Linked DNA regions of Homo sapiens. The protein of the gene in region 1 binds, or shares a complex with, the protein of each later gene. Each region holds a gene or a part of one and is shown in the gene's direction. Other genes may lie near its edges. The genes, in order: CDHR2 and MYO7B.

Region 1 (3,910 bases):
CTCAATGGATCTCAATTCCCTTTTTTCTTTGCCTGGGGGGAAGCTCAGAACCTGATTCATGACCCATCTCTACAATTACCCAGAACTTGAAGGCAAATATATATATATATATAATTTGTTTATTTTTTGAGAGAGAAGCTCTTGTTGTCTAGGCTGGAGTGCAGTAGCTATTCATAGGCACAGTCTCACTACTGATCAGCACCTGAAGTTTGACCTGCTCTGTTTCTGACCTGGGCTGGTTCAGCCTTTCTGAGGCAACCTAGTGGTCCTCTGCTCCTTGGGGTTCACCATATTAGTGCTGAATTTAGTGTGGACACCCCATCAGCATAGTGCCCTACAGCACAGAAATCCTGGCCTCAAGCCATCCTACTGCTGCAGCCTCCCAAGTAGCTGGGACTACAGGTGCACAGCAGTGCCCCCAGCTCAAGACAAGTATTTTATGGCCTCAATTCAGGCGTAGATTACCCTTATTTTTCTCACTTGACTTCCCTTCATCTGGGTTTCTTCTTTTTATGCTGGTGGCGTATAAATTTTGTTACTATGTTTTACATTTGGAGAGTTGGGAAGCAAACTATTAAAATGCCTGACTATAGCAACTGCCTGATATACAGTCAACACAACCCTTAACAACGGGGACACCTTCTGGGAAATGTGTCATCAGGCAATTTCGTCATTGTGTGAACATCACACAGTGACTTACACAAACCTAGGCGGTACCACCTACTACACACCCAGTCTCTATACCACCGCCTGTGCTCCTGGGCTGCTAACCTATGCAGCCTGGGACTGTACCGCACGCTGCAGGCAACTGTAACACAGGGGTAAGTATTTGTGCATGTAAACACAGAAAGGGTGCCATGAAAGATGATATTATACTCTTATGGGACCGCTATTATATGTGTGGTTCGTTGTTGACCAAAACACAGATATATGGTGCATGACTATATATCTATTGTGAATTAGACATGTCCTCTGCCCACAAGAAGAGGGCCACCCAATGGTGACGACTCAGTGGTGTGCCTTAAGAAAGTTGTGCCCAGGGTCCCCTTTCTGTGTCAACTGTGATGGCTGGGCCAAAGTGAGGATAAGAAGGACTTGTGGCTGAGCCCCTTCGGGAGGCCACCACATCGGGCAGCGCTTAAAGCCAGCCTGGGGGCCGAGCTCCGTGGCTCATCCCTGTAATCCCAGCATTTTGGAAGGCCGAGGCAGGCGGATCGCCTGAGGTTAGGAGTTCGAGACCAGCCTGGCCAACATGGTGAAACCCTGTTTCTACTAAAAATACAAAAAAAATTAGCCGGGTGTGGAGGCCCACGCCTGTAATCCCAGTTACTCGAGAGGCTGAGGTAGGAGAATTGCTTGAACCCAGGAAGCAGAGATTGCAGTGAGCCAAGATTGTGCCACTTCACTCCAGCCTGGGTGACAGAGCAAGACTCTGACTCAAAAATAAATAAATAATTAAAAAAAAAAGGCAACTTGGGAGTGGATGAAGCCCCTGGGGACGGGCAGATGCCTTTTGAGGGTCTCAATGCGGGGTGAGATCAGTGTCAACAGGCTCGAAAGTGGGTTGTCCAGGCTCAGCTAGCCCCCAGTCCTCCACGAGAACCTCACAGGGGCTGGTCTGGCCACACAGTGTTTGATTGTTACACTGTTTTACCACTTCCCTCTCCTGACTCAATCCCCCACTTGTCCACAGATCCCCTGTCACTGAAGACTCGTAGCAGGGAGGGGACGGGGGCTCTGGCATCACCTTCTGACTGTCACCGTCCCCGCCTCCAGCCTGCCCCAGTGTTGGGCCTTGTTCCCAGGTCCTCTGGGCTCAGGGTCGGCCAGGCCCCTTCTCCTGTGGTGTGGGCCTCCAGCCCCAGGAGCGCCAGGAGCTCTGGCGCCTTGGTCCCTTCCTCCTGTCCGGCGCCCCCAGCTGTACTCTGCCTCATTAGGAGTCGACCCCTCCTGGGAGGTGTGGTCTCTGGCAGGGTTAATGATTGCTCAGTGGAGGTGGAGATGGTGCCAAAGTCTGCTGGCCACATAGCTGCAGGCCGCAGAGGGTGCCCACCTGTGTGCCAGCGCCTGTCCGGCGCCTGCCTGCCGCCTCCGTGGCGAAGGGGACACAGGTAGGGACTATCCAGCTCATCGGGGGTCTCTGGGCCAGAGAAATGTGGGGGTTGGGGGGATCCCTAGAGCCAAGGCAAGCTTGGGGGTCTTTAAAAGTCTCCCCTGAAGCTGGGCAGGGGAAGTCACACGCTAGATGGGGCAGAGCCGGGTCAGGTCCCAGCCTGCTGTGAGGCCTGTTTCTTTGGTAAACATGGGATAATAATACCTCCTTCCCTGGGGGCTGATGGCCCCCTTCCCATCCAAGTCCTCAAGGGATGATTCTTCAGAGGATGGAAGGGAGGCAGGCACCCCAGGGAAACGAGGTAACTGGCCTGACCCCTTCATAGGATGCTCAGGGGTTGAGGACGGGGAAGCTGACCTGGGCTCTTACCCCAGCTGCTCGGTTCACATCCCAGCTCCACCCTGACCTTGGTGGGCTACTTAACTCTTCTGGGCCTCCGTTTCCTCATTTATCAAATGGGGATGAGAAGAGTTCCAGAAAGGGCCTGAAAAGCCCTGAGGCAAAGGTGAGCATGTGGCCTATGACCGAGCCCAGTGCCACCTCAGCCAGTGCTAGGAAGTGTCAGGCAGGGACTGACCCAGGCTGGCCCCAGCTCTGCCCAGTCCGGGCCTTGCACATCTCTCTGCCCTGGTAGAGGAGGTGGTGACCCAGCTGAGAGTCGGGGCCATGCTGCGTCACTCAGGCAGGCCTGTGCTGGGTTGGGCACCAGGCACAAGGCAGGGTCCCAGTGAGCACCGAGGTCCGGCAGATGGAAACAAGTCATGGCCCGTGTGTAGACCCCTTGATTTTTATCCTCACTCTGCTTCTCAGCAGGGGAAACTGAGGCCTGGAGAGGGGAGAGGGCTTGCCTGGGGTTGCACAACAAATATGTGAAATGCTGCCATCTGAACCCAGGGCTGTTTGAGTCTGTATGTGTCTGCTGGGCCAGGTGGCCTGGGCCATAGGCACTGGGAGGGCCCGTGGCGGGGAGCTGCGTGCTCAGGTCCCACATCCTTGCTCCGGGCACCCAGGCTCGGCTGGAGTCCGCTCTGTGGGTGCAGGCACGGCCTCCTGGATCAACGGAGCCCAGACCAAGGCTTGCCCAGGGACCCCTGGATTTGGAGGCAGCCTGGGTCTAACCTGCTGCCCCTGGCTCACCCATCTCTGGGCATCTATGAGCCTCGGTTTCCTTGGAATAATAGGATAGGATAATTCCTGCTTGGGAACAGCTGTGAGAAGTAAATGAAAAAGCAGAAGTGAAAGTGCATGGCGAGCTGGCCGTGTAGCGGTGGCGGTGCTGGGGGAGCTCTGTAGCATCGTGGCTGAGTGCACCCCGGGGGCTCCCCACACTGAAGGAGGACCCACCTCCCCACCCTGACCCTCCTGGAGGTCCTGGGCAGTCCGGGTATCCTCACTCCCAGTGGTTCCAAATTCTAGAAAATCTTGGCACCGTGGACTGCTCTGAGATGCGGCTGAAGCCTCCTCTCAGCCAAGGCTGAAGAGCTGGCACCTCCTGGGCCAGGTGGGACCAGTGAGGATTCCTGGAGACTACACATCTCATGGCGTGGGGGCCAGAGTCTCCCTGATTCTTCTCTGTGTCCTTTTTGGTCCTTCCCTAAGCACTTTCTTTTTGAGACGGATTCTCACTCTGTTGCCCAGGCTGGAGTGCAAGGCGCTATCTCGGCTCACTGCAACCTGTGCCTCCCTGGTTCAAACGATTCTCCTGCCTCAGCCTCCTGACTAGCTAGGATTACAGGTGCACGCCACCACGTCTGGCTAATTTTTTTTTGTGAGATGGAGTCTTGCTTGTCGCCCAGG
Region 2 (3,910 bases), on another chromosome or scaffold:
ATGACCAGACCCCTTTTTTACCCAACACAAGGCCTGTGGCTGACCAGGTAACTACCTGCCCCTATTATCCACCCGCCTTCAAAGCCTTGCATAAATGAGCTCCCCTCGCCCTCCTGCTCACTTCCAGGGACTGCCTGGCCCCTCCAGTCTGACCCCACCCAGGGCCCACTGCGGTTGCACTTCCCTTCTAAACAGTCTGTATTTGCCTTAAGCCCAAATCCCCCTTGATCAAGTGCCAGCCCAAGCCTGCCCAATTTGTTGCCAGGTACCCTCCTGGGAACCTTGTTGTCTGATGGCCTTTGTCTCTAAGGCTTCCTGATGGCCCCAGACATGTCCCAGGTGTATGCTCCTTTCACACTCAACACAGAACACTCTCTTGACCAGGTGTCCAAGCAGTTCTCCAGCAGACTCCGTCTGGATGTCCTATAATTCAATTCAATCAGACACTGTCAACCTGGAGTCATAGATCCCACAGGTTAAGGGCTCAGTCCCACAAAACTGCCCCACTTCAAATGCAGTCTCAAGTCCTAGGTTGCCACCTATACTTCTGACCAATTGGCTATAAATCGGGGTTCCCATGCCCCACACCTGAGGTTGGATTTGCTAGCATAGCTCATGGAACTCAGGACGGCACTCATATTGACCAGTTCGTGGGAAAAGATTTTACAAAGGATTACAGATGAGCAGCCGAATAAACACGCACAGGTGAGTTGTGTGGGAAGGTCATGGAGCTTCCATGCCCTCTCCCGCATGCCACCCCCCAGGGACCTCAGATGTGTGGAAGCTTGTCAAATCTTGTTCAAGAGTTTTACCTTCCCAGAGGTCAGTAGGCGGGGCTGAAAGTTCCAACCCTCTATTCACTAGGTCTTTCTGGTGACTGACCCCATGCTGAGGCTAGGTAGGGCCCCCACATGGTCACCTCCTCAGCATAACTTCAGGTGTTATCAAACGGACTCATTATGAGATGATCACTTGGGAAATTTTTTGTTTGTTTGTTTGTTTGAGACGGAGTCTCGCTCTGTCACCCAGGCTGGAGTGCAGTGGCCCGATCTTGGCTCACTGCAAGCTCCACCTCCCCGGTTCACGCCATTCTCCTTCCTCAACCTCCAGCTGGGACTACAGGCGCCCGCCACCACGCCCAGCTAATTTTTTTGTGTGTGTGTTTTTAGTAGAGATGGGGTTTCACCGTGTTAGCCAGGATGGTCTTGATCTCCTGACCTTGTGATCCGCCTGCCTCGGCCTCCCAAAATGCTGGGATTACAGGCGTGAGCCACCATGCCCGACGATCACTTTGGAAATTCTAAGGGTTTTAGGAGTTCTGTGACACCAACCGGGAACAAGGACCAAATATACTGTATTTTATATTATACTACCACCCTCAATTAGAGCTTGGGGTGCTTGGGGGCAGAGCTCCTGCCATGCAGCACCTGGGAAGATGCTGAGCCCCCGGATGGTCAGCTGACTGTCACCATGGGATCTGGCTGGTGGCCAGAGCAGGTGCACAGACTGCAAACCCTGGTGGCCTCCGGGCAGCATGCATCGCTGCTCTGCAGAAGGGGCCTGGGTTAAAGAGCAGGTATCATGAGGCTCTGCCAGCTGGGGCTGAGGGAGGCGTGTGGGAGTGGAAGTGCCTGGAGCCCAGGGACAAAGTCCTGTAATAAATTACGTGGGCCCAGAGTGCTCCCAGTCATTTCCTCTTGGAGCCCTACCTCTTCTTCCTCTGTCCCTTACTCCCTGACACACCCGGAGTCCCAACATTGCCTCCTTTCCTGGCTCTTTCAGGGTGCCCAGGGTGGAGGGGAAGGGGAGTCAGCCAGACCCCCATCCTGACAAGGTAAGGGCGTGCCGGGGGCGTGTCTGCCAGCGGGGAGTAGGGGGTCACCTCTCTGAAGAGGGTCGCTGGGCAGGAGGCAGGTCCCCTGGAAATAAGATGGAACAGGTCTGAGGGATAGAGAGTGGAGAAGCCCTTCAGGAGCCTGGAAACCAGAAACCGCAGCAGGGGACTCAGTCCATCGGGCTGAAGGGCAGCACCTGGGGGGCTGAGGAGGAGGAGGAGGGGGAGAAGCTGTCTAGCCCTCTGCTGTAGAAGGGCAAACTCCCTGCAGGAGGGGAACGGCAGGTGCCAAGGCTGCTCCCACCCTGAAGCCTCCTCACAGCTAGAGGGCCTCACTGTGGAATCATGGGACATCATGGATAGCCTGGGTCCCATGATGAGCCCCTGCCAGATGTCAGCTGTGCCGTGTGTGACATCCCACTGCGTCCTCGCAACACAGTGGTGGAATTGCCTCCATTTTATGGACACAGAGACTGAGGACCATGGAAGCGAAGGTGCCCACGGGAAGAAGCAGAGCCGGATTCGACTCCAAAGCCCAGGCTTATCCGCCTTACCCATGTACCTTGGGCAATTGGCTTTAGTCACCTCTGGAAGGCTGGGACCCTAGGGAGAGGCAGGACAGGTCTGGGGTGTGGTGGGGGGGGGGGTGGGGGAAGAGGTGGCTGAGGAGAGGGACCGCACCGGGGCTCACATGGGCTGTCCCCCTTGAGCTGTCCAGGTGGTGTGTGTCCCATCCCCATTTCACAGAGGACGAAACTTGAGACACAGAGATTGTGAGAGCTGGCCCAGGTCAGACAGCTGGTGGGTGTGGGGCCCCCAACCCAGATCCCCCAAATTCTCCATGACGAGGCCTCCCCTTCAGGCTCCACTTTGTAACCCTGGACTTGAATTTTGCTCTAATTTATCAGAACCCTGCACTTTGTTTAGGATTTTAGTTCAGAGATTCACACACACCCTCAGTGAATCATTGTTAGGAACCACTCAGCTCATCAGCCCACCCCATCTCCCTGGACCTGCTGGGGGCCCTACGTCTGTCCTCAGATGCCACCTCTAAGAGAATCCTCCCCAGGCGGCTGTCTTGGGGCCTGCTGCATCCACAGCTCTAGCACGGGGCTCTGTGGAGAGGCGGCACCACAGGGATGACCTATATGTGTTGATATTGCTTCCTGTTTTACATATGTCAAAAGACAAAATTATAAAAAATTTATCTTAAAGATCTTAATTGGCTTTTATTTGCAATTCTAGAATTGGGCAACACCCCACTTATAGAATACAATGAATGATCTGATGAGCCGAGCAGAGGAGTTTGGCTTTATAGACAGAATGGGGCTGAGAGAAACAGAAAACAAAAGGGGATTAGTCATTTCAATTTATTTTCCTTGTAAAGGATAGAGCTGAGGGAACTTCCTTATCATGCCCGCTGAAACTGGCCTGTCTGGGGCTCCAGCTATTGTCTCTCTCCTGATTCTTGGAAGGTCAGATAACCTTCGTTTGGGCCTGGTGGTGTGGAACTTCAGCATGAGTGACTCCATTTTGGTCTGGTCTGTTGGCCTTGTGTAGGAGCTCAGACAAAACCAATGGCCTCCATACATTTTACTTAACACATGTATTTAAATGATGTTTGTGTGCCCATTCTTGGTCCACATACCAAGCTGTTCAGGGAGGAAGAGCCAGAATCTTAGCACATTTTTCACAGAAGAGATGAAGAAGGGTAAAGGAGACTGGGCATGGTGGTGGCTCATGCCTGTAATCCCAGCACTTTGGGAGGCCGAGGTGGGAGGATTGCTTGAGCCCACAACATGGGGAGACTCCATCTCTATAGAAGAATAAGAAGAAGGAATAGGAGGAGGAGGAAGAAGAAGAGGAGGAGGAGGAGGGGGAGGAGAAGGAGAAGGAGGAGGAGGAGAAGGAAGGATTTGACCAAGGCCACTGGACTATGAGCTCCTCGAGAGCCTGGGCTGGGTTTCTCTGGGGTTTTTCCATCTCCTGCACATGCCCAGGCCTCAGCAGAGAATGGACACTTGGCACATGCTGAATGAATGAATGGAGTAGCTAGCGGCAGAAGACGAGCTCAGG

The links.
Region 2: CDHR2 (region 1) and MYO7B share a complex: the UniProt entries of both Homo sapiens proteins name them as parts of the IMAC/intermicrovillar adhesion complex.

What each region holds. Positions count from the first base shown.
Region 1 is NC_000005.10:176,547,304-176,551,213, forward strand, and holds the start of CDHR2 (cadherin-related family member 2 precursor), read left to right. Parts: upstream 1-2,038; 5' UTR 2,039-2,111; intron 2,112-3,910. UniProt on the Homo sapiens protein: Intermicrovillar adhesion molecule that forms, via its extracellular domain, calcium-dependent heterophilic complexes with CDHR5 on adjacent microvilli. Thereby, controls the packing of microvilli at the apical membrane of epithelial cells.
Region 2 is NC_000002.12:127,533,998-127,537,907, forward strand, and holds the start of MYO7B (unconventional myosin-VIIb), read left to right. Parts: upstream 1-1,685; 5' UTR 1,686-1,834; intron 1,835-3,910. UniProt on the Homo sapiens protein: Myosins are actin-based motor molecules with ATPase activity. Their highly divergent tails are presumed to bind to membranous compartments, which would be moved relative to actin filaments.